2 separate regions of the Homo sapiens genome follow, and region 2 is linked to region 1. A link means that fine-mapping ties the variant in region 1 to the expression of a gene that starts in the linked region. Tissue or cell type: whole blood. Region 1 holds a variant in brackets; the other region holds the start of a gene. All regions are shown on one strand. Distances are from middle to middle.

Evidence for each region. PIP is the estimated chance that this variant, and not a neighbour inherited with it, causes the effect.
Region 2: it holds the start of ABHD15, and the variant in region 1 is fine-mapped to the expression of ABHD15 in whole blood (TOPMed, PIP above 0.99).

What each region holds. Positions count from the first base shown.
Region 1 is chr17:30,283,570-30,286,325 of GRCh38, forward strand. BLMH (bleomycin hydrolase) reads right to left here. Exons shown (of 12, transcript NM_000386.4): 6 at 1,819-1,911. Among named protein-coding and RNA genes, the nearest start is that of BLMH, 7.0 kb to the right of the region's middle. The variant A/G (reference allele first, on the strand shown) is at 1,427.
Region 2 is chr17:29,565,599-29,568,201 of GRCh38, forward strand. ABHD15 (abhydrolase domain containing 15) reads right to left here and starts at 1,439. Exons shown (of 2, transcript NM_198147.3): 1 at 488-1,439. The coding sequence starts at 1,368. It also overlaps a transcript of TP53I13 not described here. RefSeq lists enhancers at 380-489, 2,510-2,559 and silencers at 1,010-1,629, 1,720-1,979.

The DNA of each region.
Region 1 (2,756 bases):
GGAGTACAGTGGCACAATCTCGGCTCACTGCAAGCTCTGCCTCCTGGGTTCAAGTGATTCCCCTGCCTCAGCCTCCCGAGTAGCTGGGACTACAGGCGCATACCACCACGCCCAGCTAATTATTTGTATTTTAGTAGAGACGGGGTTTCACCATGTTGGTCAGGATGGTCTTGATCTCCTGACCTTATGATCCGCCCACCTTGGCCTCCCAAAGTGCTGAGACTGCAGGCATGAGCCACCGTGCCTGGCCCCCACCATCTTAATCTAACCCTAAATAAAGGCAAATTATGTAGCAGATATAGCCTCTGCAAGACAGTCATTCCAAGCAAGAAGGGAAGAAGTAACATTTACAGAACTCCTGCTACGTGCCAGGCACTATGCCTTGCATGCTTACATTTAATCCTTGATTCCCCAAAAATCCAATAAGGAAAATATTTCAGATCCTGACTGAATCTCAGACAGGTTAAGTAACTTACCTAGGATCACAGACTGTTAAGTAAAAGAGTCAGAATTTAAACCCATGTATGTCTGACTCCAAAGCCTATTTTTTCCTACTATACTAAGATGCCTCTCTTCTGTAAGAATTTAAGAGATAAAAATGAGATTATTTAAATGCATTTGGTAAATGAAATTTCTGCATTCGTCCACTCAACAAATACTTAAGAAACAGCTATTGTGCCAAGCACTAGGCTAGACATGTTAAATATGAACTGAGCCTTTAGAGCTTAAGGAACTTGTCCCAGGATATAAAGTAATGAGAAGACTAGAGCTCAGATAGCCTGACTTCAGAGATTACACACTCCACTGCTCCACTATGCTGCATCTCTAAGATTTAAAGGAAAACACAAGTGAAGCATTAGTGTTTTCCATCGCAGTGAAAAAAAGTAGGCCATTTTAACTCCATACAGTCTTGAAAGGAAGCCTAATAAAGGGCCTACTGGCTGACAAACGGAAACATTTATTCTTTCCTCAAACCAATTGCAGTTTTATGCATATTCATTCTGGACATGGATAGTATTAATAATAAAGTTTCTTAACTGTCTTGATCATAAATAATATTACCACCTCATATTTTAGTGCTTTTTACATTTTCTAAAATGTTTTTACATACATTAACAAATATAACCATCAATAGCTCCGTCTTTATTTCTACAGAAAGAAGCCAAATGTTCTGGCATCGATCCAACATCCCTTACATCTCTGCCTTTCTAGCTTAATTTGCTACCCATCATACTGAAAAAAGTTATGTTTCAGCCACATGATTCCCTGAAGGTTCTATCTTTGTTTATGGCACTGTTCATACAATTCCTTTTGCCTAGAATGGTCTTGTTATCTACCTGGTAAATTCTGACTACTCTTTCAAGAGCTATCTTCCCTATGAAAGCTTCAGCTCACTGAGCTAGTCACTCCCTCCTCTATGACCACC[A/G]AATCAGTTTTTACACATCTAGCATAGGATTTATCATCATTATAGATGTGTTTTCTTTTTCCCAAGAGACTGAGCTCTTTAAGAGCAGTGACTATGTCTTTCTCATCTGTTTCCTCAGTGCCAAACTCATAGAAGGTATTTAATATTTATGAAATGATAAAAGAATGATTATACAGACCACTAAACTACGAATTAGAAAATCCAAGTCCAAGTCCTACACTAAAAGGCAAAGTAAGTTTTAAGCTCAGTTTTTTCAGTGTAAAATAAGTAATTTTCAATTCAATTAAACATTCGTTGCCATGACTAAAGCTTCCTAATCATTACTTTAACAGATGGGAATATTCTGAGAGTTCCTTAGAGGGGTCACAAAAAAATCCAAATTTTGTTATTACCTCCTCCATCATGACGTCCTGTGTGGCCGAGATTTCTCCTTTGGTTGCTCCACTGTGTACCAGGTTCCGCAGTCGTATACAGAATTCTCTCATCTATGACAGAAACTTATTCAGCACTCCAACAGTTACCCGAATTCAATTGTAAATGACTCTCATAGACCAACGCAAGTTCTATTTTGAGGTATAACTCAGGCCAGACCCATGACAGAGTTCATAAAGGCAAATGTGTTTTTCTTCAACTTGTCCACTTAAACACATAGCTAAAAATGCTTTCCATAAGGAGAAAAGGCATAAGTTACTCCTCCAAAATACTAGACGGAACTGCTCCTTCTCTGCAAACATCGCATAAAGGTGTTTTATGTGTCTGGGCATGGGGAAAACATGTGATCACATAATGCCTATCACTCAGAAAAAGCAGGAGACAAGATAATTATGCCACTATGTTACTCTCATAGATTTTTACTTAGAATTTCAATAGCTGTCCATTTTTCCTTCTCTGCCGGCTGACTATGACTATGGTTATGCCAGCCCCCAATAAAATTTTCATTTTTTCATTTCATTTTTTCACCAAGATAAAGGTGAGTCTGAAATTTAACCACAGTGCTAAAGAGGATGTTGCTCTGACTTCAAATGGAATCAAATGCCGTACTATTAATGATCTTTTAGCCTTTGGATAAGAATCCCCAGCGTTTCCAGGGTGGAAAATAGTCTACTTCTAATGTTGGGGAGACACACCTATAGTTGATTTTAAAATGTAATCTTTCTCCCAGGGAGATGAAAAATCCAATTTCAGCCTCATGGATTAGGACAGCAGATTCTGGCAACTCCCAGTTCTCAAAAACCATGCCTGGCTAGCAAAGCAGCATCCCCGTAGGAATTATAACTCTCCTAGGGAAAACTGGTTATGTAGAGAAGACACAATGATTCATTAAGATAAC
Region 2 (2,603 bases), 720 kb before region 1:
GGGATTACAGGCGGGAGCCACTGCACCTGGCCTCAAATGCCACCATATTTCTGATTCCTGTCACCTCCAGGCTCAGAGACTGTGAGTAAACATTCTGGGCAGATAATCGTTTGCAATTGCTTCCAGAGTGCTCTTTGCTGAGCTGTTAAGCTGTGGGCTAAGTGGTAAATGTCAGGTATCTCTGCTGTCGTGGGCCAGGTGCTCAGATTGCTAGGATACAGCAGGGGGTGCCGAGATGAGGCAAGGGGCCGGGTTAGGAGTCCCTGCTCTAGCACAGCGATACTAGCTGAGTCCATCGATGACCTTTAAACCCGCTTCCCCGGTTCTGTCTAGATTACAGGGTTTGGAAGGCTTTGGAAGATGTGTTCAGAGAACTTTGCCCAAACTGGCCCACGCCTGTTCCAATGCTATGCATAGCTGTTTCTGATTCTTAGCCAGCTCAGGCCCTCTATTCTTTCCATGCTGGTCTGCGGCCTCCGTTACCCACCTGCTGAGGGCGATCTTCTGGTGGAGCAGAAAGCCCCGCTCGTAGGGCCAGGGCAGGCCGGCCTCGAACCACTCTCGGCAGCGCAGCACGGGCGAGATGCAGGCGGCGCCTGTCACGTAGCTGGAGGAGCCGCACTCGCCCAGGTAGGACAGGAGCAGCGCCGAGCCCGAGCCTTCGCTCACCGCGAACAGCGGCGCCGCCGGGTGTCGGAAGCGGATGTATGTGACCGCCTCCTTGAGGTCGGACGGGTCCCCGAAAGGCTGCAGCCGGGGGCTGACCAGTGGGCAACCGTGGTGGCCGCGGCGATGGAAGATGACCGGGTAGTAGCCGCGCTCCAGGGCGAGCAAGCAAAGGCCGAGCACGTTGCGGGTGAGGCGACCCCACGCATTGGGGATCACCAGAAGCACCGCAGGAAGGCCCCCGGCGCTGGTGATCCGGCGGCCCCGAACACAAGGTCCTACCACCCAGTCCAGGGCCACTAGCCCATCGTCCGCCAACTGCAGGTACTCCCGGGCCAGCTCAGGCCCAGGCGCTACGGGCAGGACGAAGTGGCAGAGGGTCTGCAGGTGGGGCCCGGAGAACCAGGAGCGCGGGCCGGCCTCCAGCGCCTCTGAGCGCCGCAGGGCGCGCAGCAGGCACTGGGCCAGGGCCGACGGCTTGCAAACAAGGCTGCACCCTCCCGGCAGTGGCTCGCGCCCGTCGCTGAACTGGTCCGCCGGGCCTCCGCCGTCCGCCTCCTCCCCGTCGTCTCGGTCTTGGGCCCCCGGCAGGGTCCTCTCTCCGACGGCGCGCCCCCAGGGTCCCCGGAGCCGCGGGCCGAGCAGGCCGAGAAGGGCGAGCACGGCCAAGATGAGCGCGAGGGCGGCGCCCCACGGCGGCATGGCGAAGCTGGAGAGCCCCGGCGGGCAGCGGGCGGCGGGGCCGTCTACTCGGCGAGCTCCGCGCTTTGCCCGCGGCTCCGCCCGCCGGCGGCGGCTGCCCAGGGCCCTCCCGCGCGGGCGCGCTCTGGATTGGCCGTGGCCGGGCAGAGGCAGCCAGTTCGGGCCCGGCTGCCCTCGCCCGCCCCCCACCCCCGCCCCGGCCCTTTGTACAGCAATTGCAACAAGTGGGAGCAGAGGGTGAGAGGAGCCGGGGCCACCAGGGAGGGAGGGCGCGCCGGCAGCCGGAAGGGAGTGGGGAGGGCACGAGCCGGGGAGAGCGGTGTTGGCCATGGAGACGTGGGGAGACTGGAGGCCGAGGCTTGGGGACCCGACTGTCATCAGGGTCTTCCGCCAGACCCTGGGCGCTGCGCCCTCAGAGGCCGATGAAAAGAAGCAGAAGGGAGAGGTGAGTAAGTCGCAGCTCCGGGCGCCGGCTCCCGGGACCCCGTGGGGCGGCGGCCGCGCGCGCGCTCTGCCCTCGGGCGGCCCTGCTCTCCCCCGCCCGGCCCCGCAACCCCGCAATAACTTGGCTGGGCGGGGTCCGGCACTGGGCTAGAGAGGTCGAGCGCGGCGTCTTGAGCCGCTGGCGGGAGGCTGCTGCTTCCCCGCCTGCATCAGTGCGGGTCCCGTGGACTCCTCGCCCCCGTCCCCGCGAGCTCGGGGCTCCACATCAAGGAAATCCTCAGCCCGGGAGTGGCTTCCCCAGAAACAGCAGCCCCAAGCCTCCGAGAGTCAGTCGGAGAAAAGGACACACTCAGGCGCCCTGCGACAGGGATGCCCGTCCGACCTACAAGGAACGCCTCGTAAACCGGGGTGCATGGGAGACCACGGAAATAACACGTTCTCGCTGTTTCCAAGCTTTGGGATAGGCATCTCGACCCTCGCTCTCTACCCACGTTTCCCCCCCAAATCCTGGAGAGGGAACCAGAACCAGCGCCCCGCTGCGGGGCGGGCCGGCCAGCGCACCTCCTGGGGGTGAGGCCTGTGGCGTCCCCATCTCGCGGCGACCAATCTCTTTCTAGACGCGCGCCTGCCACCGCTGGGCGACGGCGGAGGTGGGGAAGACAGCAGCCTCTCGGCTAGCTCCGGCCTCCCGGGGCTTCTGGGTTTGGAGAGTTTGGGGAGCGGAGACACCTCCCGAGGCTCCTCCGCGTTGGACCCTATTTGCGAGGGCGGGAGCGGGGTGGGCCGACGGC